Linked DNA regions of Homo sapiens. The protein of the gene in region 1 interacts with the protein of each later gene in a biochemical or structural test. Each region holds a gene or a part of one and is shown in the gene's direction. Other genes may lie near its edges.

Evidence for each region.
Region 2: of the proteins of RNF11 (region 1) and AKT1, one has a biochemical effect on the other in vitro, tested with the Homo sapiens proteins (one study listed by BioGRID).
Region 3: the proteins of RNF11 (region 1) and ANKRD13A form a complex in vitro, tested with the Homo sapiens proteins (one study listed by BioGRID).
Region 4: the proteins of RNF11 (region 1) and NEDD4 form a complex in vitro, tested with the Homo sapiens proteins (3 studies listed by BioGRID and IntAct, with this or other methods).
Region 5: the proteins of RNF11 (region 1) and UBE2N form a complex in vitro, tested with the Homo sapiens proteins (one study listed by BioGRID).
Region 6: the proteins of RNF11 (region 1) and YAP1 interact in a test that uses a peptide from one of them, tested with the Homo sapiens proteins (one large-scale study listed by BioGRID and IntAct).
Region 7: the proteins of RNF11 (region 1) and STAM2 form a complex in vitro, tested with the Homo sapiens proteins (one study listed by BioGRID).

What each region holds. Positions count from the first base shown.
Region 1 is NC_000001.11:51,270,610-51,273,947, forward strand, and holds the end of RNF11 (RING finger protein 11), read left to right. Parts: intron 1-541; coding exon 542-713; 3' UTR 714-2,838; downstream 2,839-3,338. UniProt on the Homo sapiens protein: Essential component of a ubiquitin-editing protein complex, comprising also TNFAIP3, ITCH and TAX1BP1, that ensures the transient nature of inflammatory signaling pathways. Promotes the association of TNFAIP3 to RIPK1 after TNF stimulation.
Region 2 is NC_000014.9:104,771,749-104,775,716, reverse strand, and holds part of AKT1 (RAC-alpha serine/threonine-protein kinase), read left to right. Parts: coding exon 1-65; intron 66-509; coding exon 510-641; intron 642-713; coding exon 714-779; intron 780-1,736; coding exon 1,737-1,805; intron 1,806-2,136; coding exon 2,137-2,262; intron 2,263-2,337; coding exon 2,338-2,466; intron 2,467-2,624; coding exon 2,625-2,839; intron 2,840-3,264; coding exon 3,265-3,352; intron 3,353-3,968. UniProt on the Homo sapiens protein: AKT1 is one of 3 closely related serine/threonine-protein kinases (AKT1, AKT2 and AKT3) called the AKT kinase, and which regulate many processes including metabolism, proliferation, cell survival, growth and angiogenesis.
Region 3 is NC_000012.12:110,026,386-110,030,994, forward strand, and holds part of ANKRD13A (ankyrin repeat domain-containing protein 13A), read left to right. Parts: intron 1-1,319; coding exon 1,320-1,381; intron 1,382-2,123; coding exon of another isoform or gene 2,124-2,126; coding exon 2,127-2,257; intron 2,258-3,092; coding exon 3,093-3,250; intron 3,251-4,259; coding exon 4,260-4,373; intron 4,374-4,609. UniProt on the Homo sapiens protein: Ubiquitin-binding protein that specifically recognizes and binds 'Lys-63'-linked ubiquitin. Does not bind 'Lys-48'-linked ubiquitin.
Region 4 is NC_000015.10:55,835,960-55,840,568, reverse strand, and holds part of NEDD4 (E3 ubiquitin-protein ligase NEDD4), read left to right. Parts: intron 1-51; coding exon 52-122; intron 123-1,964; coding exon 1,965-2,060; intron 2,061-2,388; coding exon 2,389-2,462; intron 2,463-2,719; coding exon 2,720-2,780; intron 2,781-4,609. UniProt on the Homo sapiens protein: E3 ubiquitin-protein ligase which accepts ubiquitin from an E2 ubiquitin-conjugating enzyme in the form of a thioester and then directly transfers the ubiquitin to targeted substrates. Specifically ubiquitinates 'Lys-63' in target proteins.
Region 5 is NC_000012.12:93,410,281-93,414,889, reverse strand, and holds part of UBE2N (ubiquitin-conjugating enzyme E2 N), read left to right. Parts: intron 1-3,590; coding exon 3,591-3,837; intron 3,838-4,015; coding exon 4,016-4,156; intron 4,157-4,609. UniProt on the Homo sapiens protein: The UBE2V1-UBE2N and UBE2V2-UBE2N heterodimers catalyze the synthesis of non-canonical 'Lys-63'-linked polyubiquitin chains. This type of polyubiquitination does not lead to protein degradation by the proteasome.
Region 6 is NC_000011.10:102,228,449-102,233,057, forward strand, and holds part of YAP1 (transcriptional coactivator YAP1), read left to right. Parts: intron 1-1,253; coding exon 1,254-1,492; 3' UTR 1,493-4,609. UniProt on the Homo sapiens protein: Transcriptional regulator with dual roles as a coactivator and corepressor. Critical downstream regulatory target in the Hippo signaling pathway, crucial for organ size control and tumor suppression by restricting proliferation and promoting apoptosis.
Region 7 is NC_000002.12:152,148,264-152,152,872, reverse strand, and holds part of STAM2 (signal transducing adapter molecule 2), read left to right. Parts: intron 1-2,643; coding exon 2,644-2,728; intron 2,729-4,572; coding exon 4,573-4,609.

The sequences.
Region 1 (3,338 bases):
ACCCAGTAAGTAGGCTGAAGTTAGTGTTTCTGTTTTTACAGTTATTAAAATGAAAATTATCTTACTCTAGGATTACTCTAAATAGCACAAGGAAACAAAGTTGCCCGAAGTTAGTGTTTCTGTTTTACAGTTACTAAAATGAAAATTGTCTTAGTCCAGGATTACACTAAATAGTGCAAGAAAACAAAGTTGATCTAACTGATGCTTTTCTACCTAAAATAATCCCATTCTCCTTCAGGTATCTGCTATAATATGTAGCTGTTTACAAGCACAGCAGTAGATTTGATGCATATGTAATCCATTTCTCTTTGCTCTGTTGATTGCTCCTAAGTCCTGCAAATTCTCAGGGGATTGAAATAAGAGACTGTGGACAGATCAACATTAGGAAAAAATTCAGTTTGCATGCTTTGGCAATAAGATGACAGGCAAAGCATTCTGATGTGTTACTCAGATTAACACTGTCTTTAATGGGATTTAAAGAGTTTTCTGAATAGGACACTTCTGAAAATGCCTTCTGATTTCTCTCCATTGCTCTCAACAGGTGTGTGATCTGTATGATGGACTTTGTTTATGGGGACCCAATTCGATTTCTGCCGTGCATGCACATCTATCACCTGGACTGTATAGATGACTGGTTGATGAGATCCTTCACGTGCCCCTCCTGCATGGAGCCAGTTGATGCAGCACTGCTTTCATCCTATGAGACTAATTGAGCCAGGGTCTCTTATCTGACTTCAAGTGAACCACCATTTTGGTGGTTTTGATCTTTTGTCACTGAGCCCAAAGAGCCAGGGATTAGGAATTAAGATCGTGCACAAAAGTTTCCTTAAAATTCCTGGATGGCTGCAGATGTTGGGGGAAAAAGTACGTGATATTTTAGAAACTTAGTGGGAAAAGTAGGATGGTATTTTTATGTAAAGCCTTGACCCAATGTTTAAAAATATAATTGTATTTAGATCTTGTTATTGCTCCAGTACATAGGAATTGTGTAAAGTGTTAACAGCAGCTGTATTTGTTTAAATTGTGTGTATTGAAGATTAGGAAAAAGATAGTAGTTATTTTTCCTAAATGAAATAACTTTCTTCTCTTCCCCTTCCCCACCCGAATTCTTTTCTGAAGTTGCTGGCATTTGGGTCAAGGTTTTATTAAAAGCTACATTTTATAACACTGGCACACACAAAAAAGTAGTTTTAAGCTTGTTTGCACAGTTCTTTTTTTCCATTGGAAATGGAATTCATTGCCTTAGGTCTTTTTAAATAGTGTATTATTATCGTTGGGGCTGGCTCTATGCTTGAAAACCAGTTTATTTATAACCTGTTATAAGTGCTATATTCTGTTTGCAGTTAGGAAATGCAGAATTCAAAGTGATCTCCTAGCTTGTAAGCAAACTGAGATGCACTATCCCTTTTCTATAAAAAATAAGTTAATGTGTCAAGAAACCAACTCTATTAAGGTGGGGTTTAATATTACCCTTTCCTATGTGTTTTATCTAATTATTTTGGTTGTTAATATGGTGATAATGGAAAGTCAAGTTAAATTTTAAATATTAAGAATTCTGATTTATTGAGATTGAATTATGCCACCACGTTTATGTAAAAATGAAGGTGGCACCGTGGTGAGACCTAATGAGAAATAGTTACTCAGTTGTAAAAATTTTGATTTATTCTCTTTCTTCTGACCTCCTTGCCTCTTGTCTTGAACCATAGCAAAAGGATACTGCATCTCTCATTACTGTAGTGCTGAGGTTATTGAAGTTATACAAAACACATCTCAGTCTCTGTTTCTTGGAAAGGTATCTATTACATCCTGCTAGCTGACTGACAAAACTAAGCAGGGAGAATAAAGATAATTGTATTTTATGTTTTGCACACAAACGCAGAATTTGTATAACCATATGACTTCATAGTTGTGATCTCAAAAAAGAAGGAATTTCTCCTTTGTTTCTTGCAGTTAATGTAAGAATACTTTAAATCTCTAAGCTTCTGAAGTGTTAGAGGTAGAGATGGTCTAGTAAAGATGTAGTAGTAATGTTTTATCCATTTAGCATGTGTTTATTTTTTCATATGTACTCAAAGGTGACTTATTGGTTCACCTCAGTGATATTACAGCTAAAAAAATCATTCATTAGCAAAAGGAAAAGTGGTCTCAACCTAACATCAGAAGTGTTTCTTATTATTATTTTATATTGAGTTGAATATTGAACTCTAACAGTTTTCTACATACAAAACACAGTGTCATGAAGGTTATTCATAATTGCATTATAGAGGAATGTAGTATGTCATAAGTACTTTGTAAAGATTTGACATTCAACTGTAGTATCCATATGTTGCTTAAATTTCCTTATGAGCCCCATGATGGAAAGACTTAAAGATGAATTTGAGAAAAATTGAAAGAAATTAGATTATCAGGTTCTGTTAAATTGTTACATGTATCTTGCTTAAATTTCTGTTTATTAATTTATATCCACCCAAGTACATAAAGCAAATTTGGAGGAAACAACTGAAGTTGTGCAATATTTTCTGATAATTGCTTTTTTTATTCTTGTGTTTTCTACTTAAACATAATGTCTGTGTCATCAAGTATTATAGTCAGACTTTTCTTTTTTTCTAGATTGTTAAAATTGGCAAATGAACTTTTTTAAAAATCATCTTCCATGTTGCAGTTAGTCTTTCTTTTCATTACAAGTCTTTCACAGAAGTTTGGTGGTAATATTGAAAGAACTAGCATTGGGCAGAATGTGTCTTTTTTAGGCACTTTATATTCTCAACATACAATGTTAAGAACCATCAATTTTGACTTTTACTAAGTTGTTAAATAAAGTTATAATACAGCTGTGAAGGGCTAAAGTTAGAGTTGATTACATAAGTAAGTATTCCCCATATAATCTTTTAAAAAGTTGTGTATGATTATTTTAAAATCTCTCTCTCTATATATACCTGTGGGAAGTATTTTTTATTGTTTGGCATTTAATATCATTTAATCATATACTTAGGCTTGATAGCACCAAAGTTTCTAAAACCAAACAATAGCTATAATCTCTTGATTTAGATATGGGCAAGATATGTCCAAGCTTGGCTGTGGGATTTGAAATTTCTAAAAAGCCTAACCAGGAAGAAACAAAAGAATCTTATCCTTTTGAGTGTAAAACCTAACAAGTTGAAATACTTTCAGATATTTGTAGTTTACCTAACACAAACTTAAAAAATTCTGTGAGTTTCTTGATAGGGAATCTCCTCAGTCGGTACTAGAAGACTCGCCCCCTGCTATTGGTGTTTATCATGTGATATAAAACAGTATGATTTCATGCAATAGTAAGCATTGAGATAACAGATCCCCTG
Region 2 (3,968 bases), on another chromosome or scaffold:
CACCCAGTGACAACTCAGGGGCTGAAGAGATGGAGGTGTCCCTGGCCAAGCCCAAGCACCGCGTGGTGAGGCCTGTCCCCACTTCTGCCTGTGCCTGGGGCTGCCTTGGACTGTGGAGGGCTGGGTGGGTCATGGGGTCCCAGCTCGGCCCAGGAGACACTCAGCACTCCACGGCATCTCCACCTAGGCCGGTTTTCCATGTAGGGCGCAGCTGCTTCCCAGGTGGGTCCTCTTCCCCATGTCAGAGGAAAACTGGGGTTGCTGAGCCCTGCCAGGCTTGGGCAATGTTACCCCACCCTTCCCTGAACCCCATGCTCTGAGCTGGGGCCGCAGCCATGTGTTCCCTGTAAGCCTGGACTCCCCGCTGAGCCCAGTAGGCCACCAGGTGTGAAGTGGACGCCTCTCCTGGCTCTGCCTCCGACTCTGGGGCCCCTCATGCCACCCCACGCATGCCGACCAGCTGGGCACTGTTGGCAGCGCCGCTTGCTGACCCTGGTGCCTGCCCATAGACCATGAACGAGTTTGAGTACCTGAAGCTGCTGGGCAAGGGCACTTTCGGCAAGGTGATCCTGGTGAAGGAGAAGGCCACAGGCCGCTACTACGCCATGAAGATCCTCAAGAAGGAAGTCATCGTGGCCAAGGTGGGGCCGGGGCGGTGGGGCAGGGTGGAGATGAGGGTGCGGGGTGGCAGCTCACCCAGCCCTGCTTTACAGGACGAGGTGGCCCACACACTCACCGAGAACCGCGTCCTGCAGAACTCCAGGCACCCCTTCCTCACAGTGAGTGGGAGCCCAGATGGGGCTGAAGGGCTGGGGCCAGGTAGCGACTCCTGGGGCTGTCTCTAGGGGACGATGTCCTGTCTTCTTGGGCACGTGAGGGCTTTACACACCGTGGACTCCGCCGCTGGTGAGACAGGCCTGCCCTGGAGGGTCAGGCTGTGGAGGTGCCCAGTGTGGGCTAGGGGCTGTGCTCGCTGCTCCCGTGTGCGGGCAGGTGGGTGGGGCAGGTGGCCCTGGTCTTCCTTGCACTCTGCCGAGGCTCCAGGAGGCCCCAGCTCCCCATGCCCTGCAGCCCTGCCTGCCAGGCTTTTGTTGAGGCCCGGGCTCTGTCCTGCAGAACCTGTTCTGGGGACTTGGCCCAGGAGGTATTTACTGTGAAGGGGGCCAGGGTCCAGCCACTTGGTTAGTTCCAGGTCACTGTGTTTGGGGACGATTCTCCTGCAGATGGGGCCTTTGCTTTAAAAGCACAGTCGCCTGTGGTGGAAGGCGGGAGGGTGGGTCTCGCCTGGGAGGGTGTGTCCTCCCTTTGCGAAGGCCCTGGTGCTGGGAGCACTGTCCCCTGCTGAGGTCCCAACTCACCCTGGAGGACCTGAGCCCAGGCCACCTTGCTCACCTTTCAAACACTCCTTGGCACCTCAGGGGCTGCCGGGGCCCAGCCTGATGGTGGCGTGGCATGAGGCAGTGTGGTGTGGGGCAGTGTGGTGTGGGGCAGCGTGGCATGGGGGCAGTGTGATGTGGGGGTGTATGGTGTGGGGCAGTGTGATGGGGTGTGTGGTGTGGGGCAGTGTGGTATCGGGCGGTGTGGTATCAGGCAGCGTGGTGTCGGGCAGTGTGGTGTGGGGCTACGGGCGGTGTGGTATCAGGCGACGTGGTATCAAGCAGCGTGGTGTCGGGCAGCGTGGTGCGGGGCTGCCGTCCTGCCTGTGGGGCCGCAGTTCCAGCTCCCCTTCCTTGCAGGCCCTGAAGTACTCTTTCCAGACCCACGACCGCCTCTGCTTTGTCATGGAGTACGCCAACGGGGGCGAGGTAGGGGCTGGGGCTGCGGGGGATGGACTTCGCGGCCTGTGGGCCGCCCATGGTGGGGCCGGTCCTTCCCGGAGCCTCGGCTACTCTCCATGGCACCAGACGGTGCTCCCTGCTGGGTGGGTGGTGTGATGCCTGCCCAGGCAGCTGCCTGCTGTGGGGTGACTTGTTCCTGCTGAGTTAGGGCTTCTGAGACTTTCCAGGCCCCCGTGCCCTCTGGTGGCTGGTCCCTTCCCTGTGCAATGCCGAGACCCGGTCTGAGAAACCCCAGCCCTGCAGGCCATGGGGGCAGAGGCCCGAGCCACGGCTGTGCCTCAGGTTGCGCCTCCCGCAGCTGTTCTTCCACCTGTCCCGGGAGCGTGTGTTCTCCGAGGACCGGGCCCGCTTCTATGGCGCTGAGATTGTGTCAGCCCTGGACTACCTGCACTCGGAGAAGAACGTGGTGTACCGGGACCTCAAGGTGCGCTGGCGGGCAGGCAGGGGGGCAGGGCCCTGGGGGCCTGGCGGCACTGACCTGAGGCCACCTTTCCCCTAGCTGGAGAACCTCATGCTGGACAAGGACGGGCACATTAAGATCACAGACTTCGGGCTGTGCAAGGAGGGGATCAAGGACGGTGCCACCATGAAGACCTTTTGCGGCACACCTGAGTACCTGGCCCCCGAGGTGTGCGCCCCACCTGCGTGCATACGCGTTGCTGCGTCCCCACGTCCTGAGCACACGCAATGCTGTGTCCTCTCTGTGCCCCAAGCACGTCACACCTCCCCCGGCAGTGTCCCGGACACCCCTTGATGCCGAGTCCTGCCCATCTGCCACCCGTGCAGGTGCTGGAGGACAATGACTACGGCCGTGCAGTGGACTGGTGGGGGCTGGGCGTGGTCATGTACGAGATGATGTGCGGTCGCCTGCCCTTCTACAACCAGGACCATGAGAAGCTTTTTGAGCTCATCCTCATGGAGGAGATCCGCTTCCCGCGCACGCTTGGTCCCGAGGCCAAGTCCTTGCTTTCAGGGCTGCTCAAGAAGGACCCCAAGCAGAGGTGAGGGCCGCCCATCCCAGCTACAGGCTACACCTCCATCCCCTCATCCCCAGGCTGCACCTGCCCCTGCGCCAGGCGGTCCTGGCACCTCCCAGACTACACTGATAGCCAAAGCTTGATGTCCTTGGCCAGGGCTGATCTCCAAAGCCTCAGGCCCAAGCAGAGTGGCGGGCAGGCCGGGGTCAGTTGGGCCTCTGTCCCCAACCCTGCAGCCTGCACCCACCCACTCAGGAAGCCCCTGCCCTGCCGTGAGCTCTGTGGTGCTTTGCTACCCACAGCTGCTCAGGGACGCTGCACCACCGGCTCCCCTCCCTGGCCCCGGAACGTCCTGTCTGGCGGGCCCTACATCACAGGAGGAAGGGGCCTGAACCCAGGGCCTGGGCAGGTGGCGGTACCGACACTGTGGCCTTGTTTCCTGCCTGCAGGCTTGGCGGGGGCTCCGAGGACGCCAAGGAGATCATGCAGCATCGCTTCTTTGCCGGTATCGTGTGGCAGCACGTGTACGAGAAGAAGGTGCGGCTGCTCCCCGCATATTCACGCGCACGCATGCTCCCCACATATCCACACTCACGCATGCACGTGGCACGCTCGCCAGATTTCCCACACACTCGCCCTCACCTCAGGAGCCTGCTGCAGTCCTGGTACAAGGAGGGCCTTGCTGCACCAACCTCAGCGCCTGGTGCTCAGAGGCTCTGGCACTGCCGGGTTCCACCAGGAAACTGGCCTGGTCCTCATTTCCTCCTCCCCTCGGAGGTGTGTCACACTCTGAGTTTCCTCCTCCCCTCGGAGGTGTGTCACACTCTGAGTGCCAGCCTTGGGGTTCCCTTCCCTGACGCTGTGCAGTGAAGGCTGGCTGGTGGTGGACCAGGGGTGCTGCCCCTTGGCCTCCACGAGTTCCTCCTGTTTGACCTCAATCCCTTCTGCCGCAAGGAGAGCCCAGCCCTATTTCTGGCTGTGCAGGGACAGGGACAGCACCTACTTTTCTGGCACATGGGGGAGTCCGCCCTGGAGGGAGGCAGCTCTTTCTGCATGAGTCGCCATCCTGGGTGCTCATCTTTCAGGGACCCTAGGAGCCCTGGCCATCACCCCAGCTGATGGGGTCTGCCAGCTGGGTTCGGAAGCCTGCACT
Region 3 (4,609 bases), on another chromosome or scaffold:
CAACATGGAGAAACCCCATCTGTGCTAAAAAAAAATACAAAATTAGCTGGGTGTGGTGGCCCATGGCTGTAATCCCAGCTACTCAGGAGGCTGAGGCAGGAGAATCACTTGAACCTGGCAGGCGGAGGTTTTGGTGAGCTGAGATCGTGCCATTGCACTCCAGCCTGGACAACAAGAGTGAAACTCCATCTCAAAAAAAAAAAAAAAATTTCCTGGCTGAGCACGGTGGCTCACACCTGTAATCCCAACACTTTGGGAGGCCAAGGTGGGCAGATCACTTGAGGCCAGGAGTTTGAGACCAGCCTGGCCAATATGGTGAAACCCTATCTTTACTAAAAATACAAAAATTAACCAGGCGTGGTGGCGCACTCCTGTAGTCTCAGCTACTGGGGAGGCTGAGGCAGGAGAATCGCTTGAACCCCAGAGGTGGAGGTTGCTGTGAGCCAAGATTGTCCCACTGCACTCCAGCCTGGGTGACAGAGCTAGACTCTGTCTCAAAAAAAAGAAAAAGGAAAGAAAATTTCCTTAGTCTGACTCATTCTTGGAGGTGTTTCCCCATAGTTGGCCTCAGCTGTAATTAAAGCTATTCGTGAGGGCTTGTTTATGTGTTATCAAGAACAATTGTTGAATTCAGCCAAAAAAGGAGATAAGGACATTTGAGAATATTTATCATTGGAATGAGTGATTTAGTCCAAACTATTGTGATGAAAGATTTAGACAGAACTTGGGGTCCAAGCAAAAACATTGCATGTGGTTGCCACATCCCAGCCCCATCCCAGCCCCACCAGTTCTATGGCCTTGTGAAATTACTTCTGCTCTGTGCCTTAGTTCCTCAGCAGTGAAATGCAGGTGATACCCAACCTTCCTTAGAGTTATTGAGAGGATTAGATGAGTTACGACGTGGAAGCCTTTAGAATGGCGCCTGCAGTATGTGGTAAGCATGCAGTAATTGTTCACCAGCACCACCACCACCATTGCCATTACTCCACTTTGACAGATGAGGGAACTGAGGCCCAGAACACATGGGTAGCGAGTGGCCAAGGTGGGGTTGGAATCCAGGTCTGGCTCACTCCAAAATCCAGACTCTTCCCATTATTCTGCTTTAATTCTTACAACTGTTTATCTAGTTTAGAGATCCTCATGAAAAGCACCCTATAAAGGATAAATTAGTTTATGGTTATTGTGAATGATTTGATCAGCCAGTCTGTAATTGCATTTCCTAATGAGGTAGCTTGGACCAGAAACTTTAATGAAGATCTTTTTTTTATAGCCACAAGTGAGATATAATATTAGACTTTAAACTCCCTACCCCTCTGTAGCAGACAGGAACCCGCTGGAATCTTTGCTGGGAACTGTGGAACACCAATTTGGTGCACAAGGGGTAAGTTGAAGCAATGAGCTTTCATTGCAGTTAGATGAAAGGAAACAACTTGTCTGTGTCTGGGATGGCATTTACTGGATCCTGAACAGCCCACTCTATGTAAAGGCCAAAGATACCCCCAAGCTGGAATTTGAGATACTCTTTTGGAAGAGAATTAGATGAGTGACTCTTTGAAAATAAATAAGGATTTTAGAGGAGGGGTAGTGATTATAGAAATCAGGTGCTTTCCCTCTTATCCATTATAAACGAGGGGCCTCTTTATAGAAATGGAACTTAAAAAGGATTCAGGACTTTATATTGCAACAGAGCACCTTAACAAATATTTTCTTACTTGATGCTCACAGTAACTATATGAACTTGGTACAGTGGATGTCCCTGCGGGTCAGAAAAATGAAATTACCTTTCCACTATCAAAGCTAGACAGGGAAACAGCTAGAACTTCAACTCCAAGTCTTCCAAGTCTCATGCACTTTCAGATATTTCTTTCTTTTTTTCTTTGTTATAATCAGGAGATAAAAATGTAAAGGAGAGTAGAGAAATATTTTAAAATGAAGAAATCCATTACACTTCCTGTGTAGTTTGGTGATATCCTCATAGATTTTCTTGTTCCATGCAAAAAAGTTAGTGAATAGAACTTCCCGGTCTTTAGCTGGTTAACACGTCCACCTCAGACACTGAGTGCCACAGGCCTTCACTTGTGAACATCATTTGGCATTTCTGACTCTCCTGAGTTCTGGCTCAGCAGGACCTCACCACGGAATGTGCTACTGCAAACAACCCCACAGCCATCACGCCTGATGAGTACTTCAATGAAGAGTTTGATCTGAAAGACAGGGACATTGGAAGGCCGAAAGAGCTGACGATTAGAACACAGAAGTAAGAGAGGTTCAGCTGCCATTTTCAACCTATGTATGTTTCAGAAATTGTGCTGTTTTATGGTGTTATGTTGGATCATTCCACTGCCCTCCCCACCACCCTTATTTTTTTTTCAGACGGAGTCTCGCTCTGTCGCCTAGGCTGGAGTGCAGTGGCACGAACTCGGCTCACTGCAACCTCTGCCTCCCAGGTTCAAGCGGTTCTCCTGCCTCAGCCTCCTGAGTAGCTGGGACTACAGGCGCGTGCCACCACGCCCAGCTAATTTTTGTATTTTTAGTAGAGATAGGGTTTCACCATATTGGTCAGGCTGGTCTCGAACTCCTGACCTTGTGATCCGCCCGCCTGGGCCTCCCAAACTGCTGGGATTACAGGCATGAGCCACTGCGCCCAGCCTCCTCTGCCCCTTTTTATAAAAAATAATTTTAAAATTACTTTGCCATGAAAGCTAACAGTAGATTGTCCATGTTATTAGCTCCTTTCCAAATAGAATCTAGATTGGATGTAAGAATTCCTTTTTTTTTTTATTGCTAACCAGCTTCAGCTGATCAAATTCAAATGAAACTGTTCCACCCGCTATCATTTCTTCATGCTTGCTGTCAATTAAGGCTTTGATCGTGGCAGGTTGTCATGCAGGTCGCTTGCCTTTATTGCCAGATTTTAGGGTGATGTGAATTCCTTGTGGCCCTAGACATTTGACCTTTAATAGGTCTGAATTAAGAGATGACTGGGCAGAGTGTGGAGTAAAGCTGCTGTTGTCTAGCCTACTGCATAGCAATAATCTCCTTTTCCCATCTGGTGGAGATGACCTCAGTCTTTTCTTGGTTGAATTCTGCAGGTTTAAAGCAATGTTGTGGATGTGTGAAGAGTTTCCCCTCTCTCTGGTGGAGCAGGTCATTCCCATCATTGACCTAATGGCTCGAACGAGTGCTCATTTTGCAAGACTGAGAGATTTCATCAAATTGGAATTCCCACCTGGATTTCCTGTCAAAATAGGTACTGCTAAATAAACTTCAGCAACACTTGGAGGTTCTGCCCATGTTTGTGGGTGGCAGCATGTGGGTGGCAGGATGCTTCAGGGAATTGGAGTGCTTTAGGTCAAAGTAGCTTATAGACATAACAGAGGAGGTCAGAGTTCTCCTGTGGTTTGATTTAAAGAAGTGTTATGATTAGTGGTTCATTTTGTGTATCAAAGTCAAGAGATCTCCAACCATCATTTCTATTTGCAAATGGTGCTGACAGATATAAAAAGGCATAAAAACATGACACAGTCATTGTTTTAATGTCAAACCTTAATTCAGTGAGACTTCAAATTAGATAATTATTTGAGGAAGACAGTTGACACCAAGATCCTTTGATATGTAAATATGATCTACGTCCCAAGCTAGTATGCATAATGCTATATATGTATATATCATACATACTACTCATGAAGAGTATTAATTTTGGATAGTTGTATGTTCATGATACTTGAACCCTGGCTTGATCACTTACTCACTGTGATCTAGGAGAAAATACATAACTCATTTTCTCTTTTTTTTTTTTGAGATGGAGTCTCGCTCTGTTGCCCAGGCTGGAATGAAGTGGCATGATCTTGGCTCACTGCAACCTCTGCCTCCTGGGTTCAAGCGATTTTCCTGCCTCAGCCTCCTAAGTAGCTGGGATTATAGGCATGCATCACCACGCCCAGCTAATTTTTGTATTTTTAGTAGAGATGGGGTTTTATCATGTTGGTTAGGCTGGTCTCGAACTCCTGACCTCAGGTGATCAGCTCGCCTTGGCCTCCCAAAGTGCTGGGATTACAGGTGTAAGCCACCGCGCCTGACCGAAAATACACAACTCTCAATCTCAGTTTTCCCGTCTGTGTATTGGGAAGGGTTGTTATGAGGCTTAAATAAAATTATACTTATCAAAGTACTTGGCATAGTAAGCACTTAGTAAATGATAACTATTATTGTTATTCTCAGTAAAGTTTACTTATAAAAGTTTTTATTTTGTTTGTTAGAAATTCCCTTGTTTCATGTCTTAAATGCACGGATTACATTTGGAAATGTTAATGGCTGTAGCACTGCCGAAGAATCTGTATCTCAAAATGTGGAAGGGACCCAGGCTGATTCAGGTAAAAAAATAAATAAATACAAAGTTTAGTTTTGTTATTTAAAAAAAAATTTATGGCCGGACGTGGTGGCTTATGCCTGTAATCCCAGCACTTTGGGAGGCCGAGGTGGGTGGATCACCTGAGGTCGGGAGTTTGAGACCAGCCTGACCAACATGGAGAAACCCTGTCTCTACTAATAATACAAAAATTAGCCGGGTGTGGTGGCGCATGCCTGTAATCCCAGCTACTCGAGAGGC
Region 4 (4,609 bases), on another chromosome or scaffold:
CTGTTTTCTTTCACTTGGTAATCATCCTAAATGTATTTGGTTTTTTGCAAGGTTTTTTCATCCGCCCATTTTACAAGATGATGCTTCACAAACCAATAACCCTTCATGATATGGAATCTGTGGTATGTCTTTTTCACTTATAGTATAGACGAAGTATAATTTAACAAGCAGCTTGAACATTTTGAAGAATTTGCTTTTAATGACATGGAAATTAATATATTATCATGTTTCAAAATACAAATGAACTTTTTCCTCAACATTTTATTATGAAAATTTTCTAACATATAATAAAGTTGGAAGAATTTTACATTGGACAGTTGTATATCAACTACTCACAATTGCTTTTTTTCTAGATTTACTTTATCACATACCTATCTGTCTATCCATCAGTCTGTCTTAGTTTCTTCATGCATTTCAGAGTAAGTTATAGATAACATTAAACATCCCACTAAATACTTCAATAGGTTATACCAAGTTATATGTCTTTTGAATCAGTATTTGCATTATGATCTTTTATGATGAATGTTATATATATATATATATATATATATATATATATATATATATATTTTTTTTTTTTTTTTTTTTTTTTTTTGAGACAGAGTGTCACTCTGTTGCCAAGCTGGAGTGCAGTGGCGTGATCTTGGCTCACTGCAACCTCTGCTTTCCAAGTTCAAGCAATTCTCTGCCTCAGCCTCCTGTGTAGCTGGGACTACAGGCGCGCACCACCACACTCAGCTAATTTTTGTATATTTAGTAGAGACGGGGTTTCACCGTGTTCACCAGGATGGTCTCAGTCTTTTGACCTCGTTATCCGCCTGCCTCAGCGTCCCAAAGTGCTGGGATTACAGGCATGAGCCACCGCACCTGGCCAAATGGTGTATATTTTTTAAATGGCAGTCGAAAGGCAAAGCGTTATGGTTAGGTTCCTAGAAAAAAACAGAAGCCCAAGGATTAAACCCCGGACTGTAGCCGTGTTGTTTCCTGTGCTGCTGAATAGCCTCACACAATGTGTGTTCACATGAATTCCAGGGCATCTTCCTTAGTACCAAGTTCATTTTTTATTCTTTTCTTATTACATATTAACAGCACAAACAGTGTGATTCTTTATAAATCATAAGATTGCACAGTTACTTGAGTTGGTTCATTGAGCCTCTATATTTATTAAGAGATTTTTCTTTAACTCGGGCTGGGTATAAACAATGGCCTCCTCATAGCTACTTAAACATTTCACACTTAGTGCCGGACACAGGGGTGTGCAACTGTAATCCCAGCACTTTGGGAAGCTGAGGCAGGTGGATCACTTGAGGTCAGGAGTTTGAGACCAGCCTGGCCAACATGGTGATACTCTGTCTCTACAAAAAATACAAAAATTAGCCAGGCGTGGTGGTGCGCGCCTGTAGTCCCAGCTACTTGGGAGGCTGAGGTAGGAGGATCACTTGAGTCAAGGAGGTCGAGGCTGCAGTGAGCCACAGTCGCCCCACTGCACTCCAACCTAAGGGACAGAGCGAGACCCTGTCTCAAAAAAAAAAAAATTAAATTAAAAAATAAAAATAAAACATTTAACACGAAGTCACATAGGCATATGAGGAATGTGCTAAGTGCTCCTGGATATCCAGAGAAGTTAGGTTTTATCTGAAAACTTCTGTATTCATTCCTTTAACTGGATGATAAAATCTGTACCTCCACTGCTTCCACATAAACATAGATTCTAAACTTTTAAGTAGGCACCAATTGATTAATTGATTGATGCATTTTTACTCTTGCCCTTACCTGTCATCCATCTCTTTTTGTAATACACACACATACACACATACATTTTTGTTTATATATGTGTGTAAGTAAAGGATGTCCATCTGACCTCTCATCTTTTACCCAATTATTCAGACCCTCTACATACTGTTTTTTGCAATTTCAGGTGTGTTATAGATACAAATTTTAAATATGTAATTTTTCCCATCTAGGATAGTGAATATTACAATTCCCTAAGATGGATTCTTGAAAATGACCCAACAGAATTGGACCTCAGGTTTATCATAGATGAAGAACTTTTTGGACAGGTTTGTGAATTTTGATCAGTTAAAATGGCACATAAATTGTGAGACAAATGTTTAGATGTTAATACGTACACTTAATACATTCCTAGGCTCTGTTTTTACATTCATTTCCCAGTAACAAAAGCTGTCTCTGAGCAAGAATTTGTACTTTCTTTAACATTTGACTCGTTCCATATTTATTTTAGTAAAACTAGTATTTTAAGTTTTCTTAGTTTTTAACTTTTGACTGGACTTAATTTAAAACACCAAGTTTCTCGTATAACTACAATATGTATACTTTTTAAATTTTTCTCGCTAAAATAACATATCAAGTTATTGTGTTTAATTTTAGACACATCAACATGAGCTGAAAAATGGTGGATCAGAAATAGTTGTCACCAATAAGAACAAAAAGGAATATATTTAGTAAGTATTTTATTAGTATGTATTTTATTGGATATAATTTTGTACTTTATTCCAGAAAGACTCTTCTTACCATCTTTCTCTGTCCCCTTGTCCAGAATCTCAGTGTTCTTTTTCTCTATCACAATGCAGTAGCAAGCACTCATATTCAGCTTTTACCTTGGTCTCAGCTAGCCTTTAGTTTTTGTTTCTAACTAGAATAATTGTGCCTCAGAATTTTGTCTTGGTTCACATGAAAATGAAATGTTGTTTCTTTTTAGTCTTGTAATACAATGGCGATTTGTAAACCGAATCCAGAAGCAAATGGCTGCTTTTAAAGAGGTATTCATTTTCTTTTATTTGCTCTTCCATAATGTCACAGTATAACCTATAAGTTTCAAATATTAGGCCTCATCACATCTGAGAAAAATAAGTATATGGCTTGTTTTGTGAAATCATTCTAAATTATATTTTTATATTAACTAAATATTCCATTCAGTCATTCAAGAAGTCTAGACAATAAACATGGACAGGTCCCCTTTCCCCCAAGCCTTTTCCCTATTCCATTCTCTTCACTTTAGGACAGCAAAAGAACAAGAGTGCTTTAGGGATAGTATAACATATTGTTTGTTTTTCTAAATAGGATCACCTTACACATTTTGTTTTGTGACTTACTTTCTTCTTTTTTTTTTTTTTTTGAGCGCGGAGTGAGTCACTTTGTCGCCCAGGCTGGAATGCAGTGGCGTGATCTCGGCTCACTGCAACCTGCACCTCCCAGGTTCAAGCAATTCTCCTGCCTCAGCCTCCTGAGTAGCTGGGATTACAGGTGCCCGCCACCACGCCTGGCTAATTTTTGTATTTTTAGTAGAGACATGGTTTCACCATGTTGGTCGGGCTGGTCTCAAACTCCAGACCTCAAGTGATCCATCCACCTTGGCCTCCCAAAGTGCTGGGGTTACCAGTGTGAGCCACCGTGCTCGGCCTACTTTCTTCTTTTATCAGATATTTATTAGGGATATTTACATGTGACGACATATAGCTGCCTTTCTTTGTGGCTATATTTTATTCAGAATATAAATTAAAAAGTTACTTAAATTTTTCCAATTGGTAGACAGATTGTCAGAGCACTCATTTCTTAAGCTAACTTACAATCTTCTGTTAAATATGTATCTGGCTGGGCATGGTGGCTGACGCCTAAAATCCCAACACTTGAGGAGGCTGAGGCGGGAGGATTGCTTGAGCCCAGGAGTTCGAGACCAACGTGGACAACATAGGGAGACCTTATCTCTATAAAAAATTAAAAATTTGGGCGCGGTGGCTCATTCCTGTGATCCCAGCACTTTGGGAGTCCGAGGTGGGCAGATTGCCTGAGGTCAGGAGTTTGAGACTAGTCTGGCTAATGTGGTGAAACCCTGTCTCTACTAAAAATACAAAAAAATTAGCCGGACGTGGTGGCGTGCACGTGCAGTCCCAGCTACTCGGGAGGCTGAGGCAGGGGAATTGCTTGAACCTGAGAGGCAGAGGTTGCAGTGAGCCAAGATTACGCCACTGCACTCCATCCTGGGCAACAGAGCGAGACTCCGTCTCAAAAAAAAAATTAGCCTGGTGTCATGGCATGTGCATATGGTCACAGCTACTTGGGAGGCTGAGGCTGGAGGATCACTTGAGCCTGGGAAGTCGAGGCTACAGTCAGCTATGAGCTATGATGGCACTACTGCACTCCAGTCTGGGCTACAGAGTGAAACTTTGTCTCTAAAGTGTGTGTGTGTGTGTGTGTGTGTGTGTGTGTGTGTGTGTGTCACATACTTTTTCATAAATTCAGTATTGAGTACTATGTGTATGGTGCTGTACCAGGCCAAAAGACATAGGTCCTGTTATTAAGGTATGTATGATGTAAAGAGTGAAATGAACAGAGGCAAGCATAAAGTGCTAGGTGAGCACAGAAGAGAAGTACAAACCAGGGAGGGGCAAAGGAAGGGACAAAGAAGGACTAGAGGGATTGGCCAACCATGGAGAAGAGGGAAATGCAGTTCTAAGCAACAGGAGCAGCGTGTGTGAAGTCTGGCAATAAGGTAGGCTGTACCCACAGGCAGTTGAGTATGCTGGGTGAGAGAATGCAAGAGGGAAACAATCAGCCTGCGGAGCTAACAGACCAGCTTATACAGGGCCTG
Region 5 (4,609 bases), on another chromosome or scaffold:
CATAAAATAGACTCAAATCCATCCTCTCATGGAGCTTAAATTCTGAACAAAATAAGTAGAAATGAGATTTGTTAGTAGTGCTGTGGAGATAAAGCCAGGGAGTGGGGATAGGGAGTGTGCAGGGTAGGGTTGAATGGGGTTTGCAATTTCAGTTATGATGGCTTCACTGAGAAAACATGAAGATCTTAGGAGCTGAGGGAGCAAGCCATATGGATATCTTGGGGAGGAAGAGGAAGTACAAAGCCCTTGAGGTGAGCGGATGCCTGGCACGTTGAAGAACTACAAGGAAGCTAATTTTTGTCTGGAACAGAGAAGGTTAGGGGATGGAGAGAGAACAGCTGAAGATAAGTCAGAGAGGTAGGTGGAGTGAGGGCATCATATAGAGCGTCTTTTGGGGGCCCATTACAAGGACTATGACTTTTTTTTTTTTTTTTTTTTTTTGAGACGGAGCTTCGCTCTTTTGCCTAGGCTGGAGAGCAATGGCATGATCGGGGCTCACCGCAACCTCCACCTCCGGGGTTCAAGCGATTCTCCTGCCTCAGCCTCCCAAGTAGCTGGGATTACAGGCATGCGCCACCATGCCTAGCTAATTTTATATTTTTAGTAGAGGTGGGATTTCTCCATGTTGATCAGGCTGGTCTCGAACTCCTGACCTGAGCCGATCCACCCGCCTCGGCCTCCCAAAATGCTGGGATTACAGGTGTGAGCCACCATGCCCAGACTTTTTTTGAGATGGAGTCTCGCCCTGTCACCCAGGCTGGAGTGCAATGGCACGATCTCAGCTCACTGCAACCTCCGCCTCCTGGCTTCAAATGATTCTCCTGCCTCAGCCTCCCGAGTAGCTGGGATTACAGGCACGTGCCACCATGCCCGGCTGATTTTGTATTTTTAGTAGAGATGGGATTTCTCCATGTTGATCAGGCTGGTCTCGAACTCCTGACCTGAGGTGATCCACCCGCCTCGGCCTCCCAAAGTGCTGGGATTACAGGCGTGAGCCACCGCACCCGGCTCAGGACTATGACTTTTAAAGGGTCTGTGGATAATAGACCTGCGAGGGAGGTAGTGAGGTCAGAAGCAGGAAGAACAGGTTAGGAGGCTGTTGTAGTATGCCAGGTCAGAGCTGATGGTTGCTTGGATCAGAGGTGTAGCAGTGGAATGGTGAGAAACAGTCCAATCATGAGTAGAATTTGAAGTATAAAAAAAACCAATTTGCCAATCAGGCTAGATGTGTGTGGCATATGAAGGAAAAGGTGGATCATTTGGAAAGATGGGTTTGCCAGTAACTGATGTGGGGAAGACTTTATGGGAGGAGCAAAGGTTGGGGATAGGGAGGTCATGTTAAGTTTGGGATGCTTATTAGACATTCAAGAGTGTATATCAAGCAGGTAGTTATAGAGGCAAGAGGCACGATGAGGGGAGAGGTCTGGGCTAGATATGAATTAGGGGAGGCTTCAGCTTATAGAGTGTGTTTAGTATTTAAATTCATTGCATTACATGAGATCACTGTGGAAATGTATAAACAGAGAGGAAGCCCTAGAATAGAGCCCCAGTGCATTTCAGTGTTGCGATGTTGGGAGATAGAAGAAACCAACAAGGAAACTAAAGGAAGCTGCTGCCAGACAAGGAGGAAGAGAGCCATGAGAATGTTTATAGGAAGTTAGATAAAGCTTTGCAAAGAGGAAGGAGACCAGCTGGATAAGATGTCGCATTTAGGTAAGATAAAGATTAAGCACTGGACATTTGATTTAACCTTGTGGAAATCATTGGTGACCTTAACAAACAAGTTAGCGATAACTACAGCTTGATTGGAGGGTATGTTCAAGACAGAAGAGGAGGAGAGAAATTGGAGACAAGCAAAGTAGAGGTTCCTCTTCAAAGACTTTCCTCCCCATCTAATTAGGAATAAATAGTAACTTCTCTTAGAAGCAAAATTTATTCGAAGACCTGTGCAAACATTCTTAAATATTTGCTAGCCATAATAAAGAAATCAATATACTTTATGTTCTTAGCTCCCACAATTTAGCCTAAATATTTGCCCTGGCATGCTTATACTGGTCCAAGCAAGCATTAGGTCATAGCCTGTTCCTCTTCCTTATTTAAAAGTGTTTTTACCTTTCTCAGCATTCCACAAGTTACTTCCTCCTTCCTTTGTTCCCCTCTACCTTTACCTCTTTTAAAAAGTTCTAAGTTGCTAGCCAGTCAGGACAAATACAGAATGTGAGATCCCGTTCCAGCCAGTGGAAACCGGACACAGCAGTAGGGTGGACGCGTCAGGTTATAAATGACCCTGTCTCCTTTGTTCAGTATACTCTTGTGGCAAAACTCCTGGCGAGTGTACCCTTTCTGCAGGAAGTAAAAATGGCTTTACTAAATAAATTAAATTTATGTTCAAGTGCTATTTCTTTATGGTACCGAAGAACAAACATTTCAGAGATCAGTAAGATCTAGTGCTCAAGACCGATTGGCCCTAGCCAAGAGTACGTGACATTTCATCTATACAGGAGAAAAACCAGAGTGTATGGGTGCAGATGCAGGGAAATGTCCAAATGCTACAGTGGGAACTGATGGAAGTATCTAACTTGTCATGAAATAGGAAGCAGGACATCAGCCACAAGTGAGGATGGGGATGGAGATGCTGGAGGTTTGAAGAGAGAAGAGAAATAATAATAATACAATTATTTAGGGGAGAGGGAGAATGATGAAAAAGAGAACTAATGGTATGATTGTTGGGAGTATTAAGGGTTCCTCTGAAGTTAATTGTCAATTTTAGAGTAATCAGCATTGTTAAATATATTTCTTTAGTCCTGTTCAGGTACCTGGGCCTCTTCTTATCTCCTTTCTTTAGTCCGTTACATTTTTCAGAGGGGAGGTTTTCAGTGGGTTTAAAAACTAATTTTTGGCCGAGTGTGTTGGCCCATACCTGTAATCTCAGCACTTTGGGAAGCCAAGGCGAGCAAATCACTTGAGGCCAGGAGTTCAAGACCAGCCTGGCCAACAGGGTGATACCGTCTCTACTAAAAATACAAAAATTAGCTAGGTGTGGTGGCGCACACCTGTAATCCCAGCTACTCAGGAGGCCGAGTTGGGAGGATCACCTGGGCCCAGGGAGGTCGAGGCTGCAGTGAGCCAAGATCTTGCCACTGCACTCCAGCGTGAGTGACAAAGTGAGATCTTGTCTCAAAAACAAACAAACAAGCCAAAAAAAACCACCAAAAAAGCTAATTTTACTTTTTAAATAGCTTGGTTTTGGTTGAGTTTAGAGCAAGTTGCCTTACTTATGTAATCCTAATGTTACTTTATTTTACTTGAGTAAAAAATCAGTTTTATTAAGCTAATTTTATTAACATATTTGTAGACATTTGTAGCCAAAATGTATGATAACATCATTAGTATTCGCTTGCAGTTTCATTCAGCTGGTTGTAATTATTTAAATGGTATTTTTTTGAATTTTGCATTTTATAAGCTAAATCTGTTGGGAGATTGGAGCTGTTCTATTATGCGTAGTTCTAAGAGATGAACTTTCTAATTTTACTTTTGGTGTCTAGCAAAATGACATTTGTTTCACAAATGTGTTTGTTTTTCTGTCATAGGAAACCCAGCGTTTGCTGGCAGAACCAGTTCCTGGCATCAAAGCCGAACCAGATGAGAGCAACGCCCGTTATTTTCATGTGGTCATTGCTGGCCCTCAGGATTCCCCCTTTGAGGGAGGGACTTTTAAACTTGAACTATTCCTTCCAGAAGAATACCCAATGGCAGCCCCTAAAGTACGTTTCATGACCAAAATTTATCATCCTAATGTAGACAAGTTGGGAAGAATATGTTTAGATATTTTGAAAGGTAAGTGTTATCTTTATCAGCATATGCTATTATTAAGCTTTCTCCTTTTTCTCTTAAGCATTCCATGTTTAGAATGTAAACATTATACAAAGATCAGAGAGGTCTGTGGGAGGGAAGTGAAGCAGTTCTGGGCCTGTTTTTTTCATGCTTTATCATACTGGGCCTGTTGCCTTCATAGATAAGTGGTCCCCAGCACTGCAGATCCGCACAGTTCTGCTATCGATCCAGGCCTTGTTAAGTGCTCCCAATCCAGATGATCCATTAGCAAATGATGTAGCGGAGCAGTGGAAGACCAACGAAGCCCAAGCCATAGAAACAGGTATCTAATATTCATTCTCCTTCACACCACTTCCACTTTTACAAATTTGTATTACCACTTAAACTTTTCTAAAGCTCTTGGCAAGGAAAAGAAATAGAAAAAAGTATAATAAGTGAGATCCTGCTTATAGTATGTAAATACGTCTTAACAAAATGGCTTGCTATGGGACCCCCCAAATATAAAGACAACCTGTAATTGAAAGATCTTGGAGTCTCTTGTAACTACACCTGGTTTAACAAATACTGAGTGCATACCATTTATCTAGTTATATGTAAAGAATACTGGAAAACTTGAACTGTTTTTGTAACCCATTTGATTAAAGTATTCAGCTGTTTATGGCTACGGAATTTGGAGTCAAGAAGCTTCTGCTACAGATTTTAAGAAAATTAGTGGGGAGAATTGTGTATCTAGAAATGGACAACTTGATTCATCCTCTTGAATTTTCTAGAACTT
Region 6 (4,609 bases), on another chromosome or scaffold:
ACATGGTGAAACCCTGTCTCTACTAAAAATATAAAAATTAGCCACATGTGGTGGTATGCACCTGTAATCCCAGCTACTCGGGAGACTGAGGCAGGAGAATCATTTGAACCCGGGAGGCGGAGGTTGCAGTGAGCCAAGATCACACCACTGCACTCCAGCCTGGGTGACAGAGCAAGACTCCGTCTCAAAAAAAAAAAAAAAAAAAAAAAAAAAGAATAGTTGCAGGGGTCTTGCAGGAGCTAAGAAATACCTGCCTCACAGGGGTAATTACGGAAGCATTTCTCCTGTGGCTTACCTGGCAACCATTGCCCTAGAGTTGACAACTGCCAGAGTGCATGAATTGGCAGGGAAATGAAGCTGTTCTTTAGCTACCAACTCTTTCACTAACTGCTTCTATTCTGAAAGTGTTTAGCAAGGCTTTTGTGCCTGTATTCATCCAGCTCCTGGCTTTGATGCTTTCTAGAATCCACACTACCCCTCCTCTCTGATTATCTAGATGTTAAATCATCCTTAGGAGCCACTTCAAACCCATTTCACACACAACACCTTTACTTACTCCTCTAATCTGTATTGCTCTCTTCTCCAGACCCCTGTAGCACTTAATGGTTTATGTTAGTTTTTCTGAAAGTATGTTCTATTGAAGCTCTGAGGAGTGTTAATGTTGTCATATGCAAAAAAGGCTCTGTGGCCAAGTAAGTTTGGGAAACCTAGAAGCAAGGCTAGGAAGATGGATTTATTCAAAGCCCTCTGGGAAGGCTTGTTTTGCTGTTAGGAAGGTGCATCTCCTAAGGGTAGAATAAAGTATTCTTGCAGTCTTTCTATTTTAGTGTTTCCCAAAGTATATTTAAGGCCAAGGTAGGTCTATACCACTCATGTTTATGTTTAGTCTTATTATGGTGGTGCTTATCTGGAAGACAGGGTAGTGATGCTGTCGTGTTGTGTACTTGTTCTTTCTCCCGCTGCTGCATATAATTTTTCAAGGGCTTTTTTATTTTTTTCATGACTCCTTTAGTGCTCAGCACATAATAGCAATCAAGCTGTTATTGGATATCTGAACAATGTTGAAGCAAAAGTAAACTTGGCATTGTTATTTTGTTATCTGTGAGTTGTTTGACCTGATATAAATTCTAGGTATCAGTTTAGGTCAGTCAGGAGCGCTTTTCTTTCCCTGTGCATTTCTCTGTGCTCATATGATACAGCCCTGATGTTAGCTTTTCAAAAAGGACTTTGTTATCTCTGTGTGTTTCCACTAGGTGATACTATCAACCAAAGCACCCTGCCCTCACAGCAGAACCGTTTCCCAGACTACCTTGAAGCCATTCCTGGGACAAATGTGGACCTTGGAACACTGGAAGGAGATGGAATGAACATAGAAGGAGAGGAGCTGATGCCAAGTCTGCAGGAAGCTTTGAGTTCTGACATCCTTAATGACATGGAGTCTGTTTTGGCTGCCACCAAGCTAGATAAAGAAAGCTTTCTTACATGGTTATAGAGCCCTCAGGCAGACTGAATTCTAAATCTGTGAAGGATCTAAGGAGACACATGCACCGGAAATTTCCATAAGCCAGTTGCAGTTTTCAGGCTAATACAGAAAAAGATGAACAAACGTCCAGCAAGATACTTTAATCCTCTATTTTGCTCTTCCTTGTCCATTGCTGCTGTTAATGTATTGCTGACCTCTTTCACAGTTGGCTCTAAAGAATCAAAAGAAAAAAACTTTTTATTTCTTTTGCTATTAAAACTACTGTTCATTTTGGGGGCTGGGGGAAGTGAGCCTGTTTGGATGATGGATGCCATTCCTTTTGCCCAGTTAAATGTTCACCAATCATTTTAACTAAATACTCAGACTTAGAAGTCAGATGCTTCATGTCACAGCATTTAGTTTGTTCAACAGTTGTTTCTTCAGCTTCCTTTGTCCAGTGGAAAAACATGATTTACTGGTCTGACAAGCCAAAAATGTTATATCTGATATTAAATACTTAATGCTGATTTGAAGAGATAGCTGAAACCAAGGCTGAAGACTGTTTTACTTTCAGTATTTTCTTTTCCTCCTAGTGCTATCATTAGTCACATAATGACCTTGATTTTATTTTAGGAGCTTATAAGGCATGAGACAATTTCCATATAAATATATTAATTATTGCCACATACTCTAATATAGATTTTGGTGGATAATTTTGTGGGTGTGCATTTTGTTCTGTTTTGTTGGGTTTTTTGTTTTTTTTGTTTTTGGCAGGGTCGGTGGGGGGGTTGGTTGGTTGGTTGGTTTTGTCGGAACCTAGGCAAATGACCATATTAGTGAATCTGTTAATAGTTGTAGCTTGGGATGGTTATTGTAGTTGTTTTGGTAAAATCTTCATTTCCTGGTTTTTTTTACCACCTTATTTAAATCTCGATTATCTGCTCTCTCTTTTATATACATACACACACCCAAACATAACATTTATAATAGTGTGGTAGTGGAATGTATCCTTTTTTAGGTTTCCCTGCTTTCCAGTTAATTTTTAAAATGGTAGCGCTTTGTATGCATTTAGAATACATGACTAGTAGTTTATATTTCACTGGTAGTTTAAATCTGGTTGGGGCAGTCTGCAGATGTTTGAAGTAGTTTAGTGTTCTAGAAAGAGCTATTACTGTGGATAGTGCCTAGGGGAGTGCTCCACGCCCTCTGGGCATACGGTAGATATTATCTGATGAATTGGAAAGGAGCAAACCAGAAATGGCTTTATTTTCTCCCTTGGACTAATTTTTAAGTCTCGATTGGAATTCAGTGAGTAGGTTCATAATGTGCATGACAGAAATAAGCTTTATAGTGGTTTACCTTCATTTAGCTTTGGAAGTTTTCTTTGCCTTAGTTTTGGAAGTAAATTCTAGTTTGTAGTTCTCATTTGTAATGAACACATTAACGACTAGATTAAAATATTGCCTTCAAGATTGTTCTTACTTACAAGACTTGCTCCTACTTCTATGCTGAAAATTGACCCTGGATAGAATACTATAAGGTTTTGAGTTAGCTGGAAAAGTGATCAGATTAATAAATGTATATTGGTAGTTGAATTTAGCAAAGAAATAGAGATAATCATGATTATACCTTTATTTTTACAGGAAGAGATGATGTAACTAGAGTATGTGTCTACAGGAGTAATAATGGTTTCCAAAGAGTATTTTTTAAAGGAACAAAACGAGCATGAATTAACTCTTCAATATAAGCTATGAAGTAATAGTTGGTTGTGAATTAAAGTGGCACCAGCTAGCACCTCTGTGTTTTAAGGGTCTTTCAATGTTTCTAGAATAAGCCCTTATTTTCAAGGGTTCATAACAGGCATAAAATCTCTTCTCCTGGCAAAAGCTGCTATGAAAAGCCTCAGCTTGGGAAGATAGATTTTTTTCCCCCCAATTACAAAATCTAAGTATTTTGGCCCTTCAATTTGGAGGAGGGCAAAAGTTGGAAGTAAGAAGTTTTATTTTAAGTACTTTCAGTGCTCAAAAAAATGCAATCACTGTGTTGTATATAATAGTTCATAGGTTGATCACTCATAATAATTGACTCTAAGGCTTTTATTAAGAAAACAGCAGAAAGATTAAATCTTGAATTAAGTCTGGGGGGAAATGGCCACTGCAGATGGAGTTTTAGAGTAGTAATGAAATTCTACCTAGAATGCAAAATTGGGTATATGAATTACATAGCATGTTGTTGGGATTTTTTTTAATGTGCAGAAGATCAAAGCTACTTGGAAGGAGTGCCTATAATTTGCCAGTAGCCACAGATTAAGATTATATCTTATATATCAGCAGATTAGCTTTAGCTTAGGGGGAGGGTGGGAAAGTTTGGGGGGGGGGTTGTGAAGATTTAGGGGGACCTTGATAGAGAACTTTATAAACTTCTTTCTCTTTAATAAAGACTTGTCTTACACCGTGCTGCCATTAAAGGCAGCTGTTCTAGAGTTTCAGTCACCTAAGTACACCCACAAAACAATATGAATATGGAGATCTTCCTTTACCCCTCAACTTTAATTTGCCCAGTTATACCTCAGTGTTGTAGCAGTACTGTGATACCTGGCACAGTGCTTTGATCTTACGATGCCCTCTGTACTGACCTGAAGGAGACCTAAGAGTCCTTTCCCTTTTTGAGTTTGAATCATAGCCTTGATGTGGTCTCTTGTTTTATGTCCTTGTTCCTAATGTAAAAGTGCTTAACTGCTTCTTGGTTGTATTGGGTAGCATTGGGATAAGATTTTAACTGGGTATTCTTGAATTGCTTTTACAATAAACCAATTTTATAATCTTTAAATTTATCAACTTTTTACATTTGTGTTATTTTCAGTCAGGGCTTCTTAGATCTACTTATGGTTGATGGAGCACATTGATTTGGAGTTTCAGATCTTCCAAAGCACTATTTGTTGTAATAACTTTTCTAAATGTAGTGCCTTTAAAGGAAAAATGAACACAGGGAAGTGACTTTGCTACAAATAATGTTGCTGTGTTAAGTATTCATATTAAATACATGCCTTCTATATGGAACATGGCAGAAAGACTGAAAAATAACAGTAATTAATTGTGTAATTCAGAATTCATACCAATCAGTGTTGAAACTCAAACATTGCAAAAG
Region 7 (4,609 bases), on another chromosome or scaffold:
TCATTCTCCTGCATTCTAATATTTTTACTACCTGTGTATATATCCCTAAAGAATATGGTGTATTTTTTGGATGTTGTGAAACTTCAGGTGAAACATTCACATATTGCTGGTGGGAATGTACCATAGTATAGTTCCTTTGGGAAACTGCCCATTCCTAAAAAAATTAAACTTAGAGTTACCATATGACACAGGATTTCTACTCCTAGATATACACCAAAGGACAATGAAGGCGTAATGTCCACACAGAGACTTGTATATGAATGTTCATCGCATCAGTGCATTATTTATATTAGCCAGAAAGTTTTTTTTTTGTTGTTTTTTTTTGAGACAGAGTCTCACTCTGTCACCCAGGCTAGAGTGCAGTGGCGCAATCTTGGCTCACTGCAAGCTCTGCCTCCCGGGTTCACGCCATTCTCCTGCCTCAGCCTTCCGAGTAGCTGGGACTACAGGCGCCTGCCACCACACCCGGGTAATTTTTTGTATTTTTAGTAGTGATGGGGTTTCACCGTGTTAGCCAGGATAGTCTTGATCTCCTGACCTCGTGATCTGCCCACCTCGGCCTCCCAAAGTGCTGGATTACAGGTGTGAGCCACCGCTCCTGGCCCAAAAACATTTTTAAAAATCCAAATGTTGACTGGGCATGATGGCTCAAACTAGTAATCTCAGCACTTTGGGAGGCCGAGGTGGGCAGATCATTTGAGCCCAGCAGTTTGAGACGAACCTGGGCAACATGGCAAAACCCCGTCTCCACAAAAAATACGAAACTTAGTTGGGCGTGATGGTGCACACCTGTAGTCCTAGCTACTCGGGAAGCTGAGGTGGGAGGATCACGTGAGCCCCGGGAGATAAAGGCTGCAGTGAGTTGTGATCACACCACTGCACACCAGCCTGGGCAACAGAGTGAGACCCTGTCTCAGTAAGCCAACCAACCAACCAACCAACCAACCCAGATGTTCATGAACTGGTGAATGAATAAATGTGGTATATCTATACAATGGAATATTATTTAGCCATAAGAAGAAATGAAGTACTGGTACATGCTACAACGTGGATGACCCTTGCAAACATTATGCCAAATAACAGAAGCCAGTCAGAAAAGAACATATATTGTGTGGTTCTATTTATATGAAAAATCCGGAATAGGTAAATCTTTGGAGACAGAAAGTAGACAAGTGGTTGCGTAGGGCTGGGAATATGTGGGGAGAATGAACAGTGACTGCCAATGGGTATGGATTTCTTTTGGAAGTGATTAAATGTTCTCAAATTAGATACTGGTGTTAGTTGTACAACTCTATGAATATAGTCAAAACATTGAATTGTACATTTTAAATGTGTAAATTGTATTGATACATGAATTATAGCGATAAAGCTGTCTTAAAAAACTCATGTAGCTGGGTGCGGTGGCTTATGTCTGTAATCAGTCCTAGCACTTTGGGAGGCTGAGGTGGGCGGATCACAAGGTCAGGAGTTTGAGACCAGCCTGACCAATATGGTGAAACCCCATCTCTACTAAAAATACAAGAATTAGCCGAGTGTGGTGGCAGGCGCCTGTAGTCTCAGCTACTCAGGCGGCTGAGGCAGGAGAATTGCTTGAACCTGGGAGGTGGAGGTTGCAGTGAGCTGAGATCGTGCCATTGCACTCCAGCCAGCCTGGGCAACAGAGCAAGACACTGTCGAAAAAAAAAAAAAAAAAAGAACTCATGTAAATATTATAAATTCTTCTGCTGTTAGCTTTTTTGACTCAGCGTTATAAGCCCAAGCAAATCATATTTTGAGATTCATAAATTTTTGTTCATTTAATTTTGTATTCCTCATTTCATATTTCGTTGTATGAATTTATTAATCAATTTTCCTTTTTGCTATTGAAAACAGTGCTTCAGGCTGGGTGCAGTGGCCTGTAATCCCAACATTTGGGAGCCAAGGAGGATTCCATGAGCCCAGGAGTTCAAGACCAGCCTGGGCAACATAGTGAGACCCCTTATCTATTAAAAAAATTTACAAAACCAATGCTTTATTGGACAGTGTAGTGCATATTTACTTGTATGATATACTTTCTAATTTTTTTAAGAGGTAGAGTCTCACCCTGTCATCCAGGCTGGAGTGCGGTAGCATGATAATAGCTCACTGCAGCCTTGAGGTCATAGGCTCAAGCAATCCTCCCATTTCAGCCTCCCAAGTAGCTAAGATTACAGGCATTTGCCACCATGCCTGGCTAATTTTTAAAATTTATTTTTCGTAGAAACAGGGTCTATCTATATTGCCCAGGCTGGTCTCGAACTCCTGGCCTCAAACGATCTTCCTGCCTTGGCCTCCCATGCCTGGGATTACAGGCATGAGCCACCATGCCCGGCCTGGATTATACATCTTTAAAACTTTCTTCCAAATTAGAATTTGATGGGATTATTGATACTTAGTAATTTGTTTATTTAGAAGGCATTTTATTGCTTTACCTCAAGATATTTAGTTCATTTAATTATACAATTTAAAATTGAAGTTAGTAGAAGTACTTTTGTCTTCTGAAGGTCGTCTGTAGTATCTTCGGCAATAGAAAAGGTAGGATTTCTTAACTGTTGGACCTTTACTGGTATTTTAGTGTTATATGAGATGTGTCCTCATTGTTGTGTATGCCAATATATTTTATAGAAAAAGCCACGAATGAGTACAACACTACAGAAGATTGGAGTCTTATTATGGACATATGTGACAAAGTTGGAAGTACTCCTAATGGGTAAGATGTCCAGTCATGCTCAGTGAATGTCTAGGAACTTGATAACCAGTGTCTCTTTTTGTGATGTAACTTTGAGAGGAAAATGAGACTTTATCACAGTTGACCCTTGAACAACACAGATTTAAACTGCGAGGGTTCACTTATACATAGGTTTTCTTCCACCTCTGCTACCTCTAAGACAGCAAGACCAACCCCTCTTCCTCCAACTCATGATTTCCTTAACAACATTTTTTTTTCTCTAGCTTACCTTATTGTAAGAATACAGTATATTATGTATATACAAAATATATGTCCATCTACTGTTTATGGTATTGGTGAGGCTTCTGGTCAAGAGTAGGCTGTTAGTTGGCTGGGCGCAGTGGCTCACGCCTATAATCCCAGAACTTTGAGAGGCCGAGGCGAGCAGATCACTTGAGGTCAGGAGTTCGAAACCAGCCTGGCCAACATGGTGAAACCCCATCTCTACTAGAAATACAAAACTTAGCTGGACATAATGGTGTGCGCCTGTAATCCCAGCTACTTGAGATGCTGAGACAGGAAAATCGCTTGAACCCAGGAGGCAGAGCTTGCAGTGAGCCGAGATGGCACCACTGCACTCCAGCCTGGACGGTAGAGCGAGACTCTGTCTCAAAAAAAAAAAAAAAAAAAGAGTAGACTATTAATAGTGAAGTTTTTGGGGAATCAAAAGTTATACACAGATTTTCGGCTGCGTGGGGTGTTGGTGTCCTTAACTTTCATGTAGTTAAAGGGTCAGTTGTTTTACTTTTGGGACATAAAAGTTAAAAAAGCCTGAATGCTGGATTTATGGGATTAATTTACATGAAAAAGAGTTCAACTGAAAATCTGCTATAGTAACACACATAATTAAAGCCTTGACACAATAGGATACATGATAACAATGTATAGGTGAGTTATTTAAGGAATTCCTCTGGGACTTCTATATGTATGGGAACTTTTAAATAATGAAGTAGATAACACAGTAGATAATATAACAAAAAAGTCTTCAAATAATATACATATAAATATAATAGATTAACAATGAAAAAAGTGAATATAAAAAAGTGCTTTTGGGGAGATGTGGCAATTAGCTGAACTATATGTTAGAAATTTAGAAGAGTGATGAAAGCATTTGTTTTAACATTAAAGCTTTTCATAGTACATTCACATGTTTATACTTGAACCTCTTAAAATTGTATATCATGTTAGATTTTTTTCAAGATAAGCTTTTGCTGTTTGAAAGCTAAACCTGTCTTGAAGAAATAGAAAGATCTGGTATACGTCTCTTGTGTTGACAGATCTTTTGTGAAATGGTTTGTCTCTTAATTTTGGAATACACAACATTTGCAACATGCTTTTTTTTTTTAAAGTTCTATGAGCCTATAAACAAAATATTGTGTAAAATCATTTTATAGATTTATTCCTTTAACAATATGAAATTTCCAGGATTTTAGTTTAGTTTATTTTTATTTTATACTTTCTTTATTTTGAGACACGGTCTCTGTCATCCAGGCTGGAGTATAGTGGCATGACACAGCTCACAGCAGCTTCCTGGGCTCAAGCAGTCCTCTTGCCTCAGCCTCCTGAGTAGCTAGGAGTACAGACACATGCCACCATGCCCAGCTAATTTTTAAGTTTTTTATAGAGATGAGATCTTACTTTGTTTTCCAGGCTGGTCTCAAATTCATGGGCTCAAGTGATCCTCCCGCCTTGGCTTCCCGAAGTGTTGGAATTACAGGCATGAGCCATTAAATATAAAATTATTTGGTAATAGAATAATACCTTAATGTTTGAATTAAATTTATCAGTAAATACTTAACTGTCTCTCTCTCTCTTTTTTTTTTTAGAGCGAAAGATTGCCTAAAAGCCATAATGAAAAGGGTA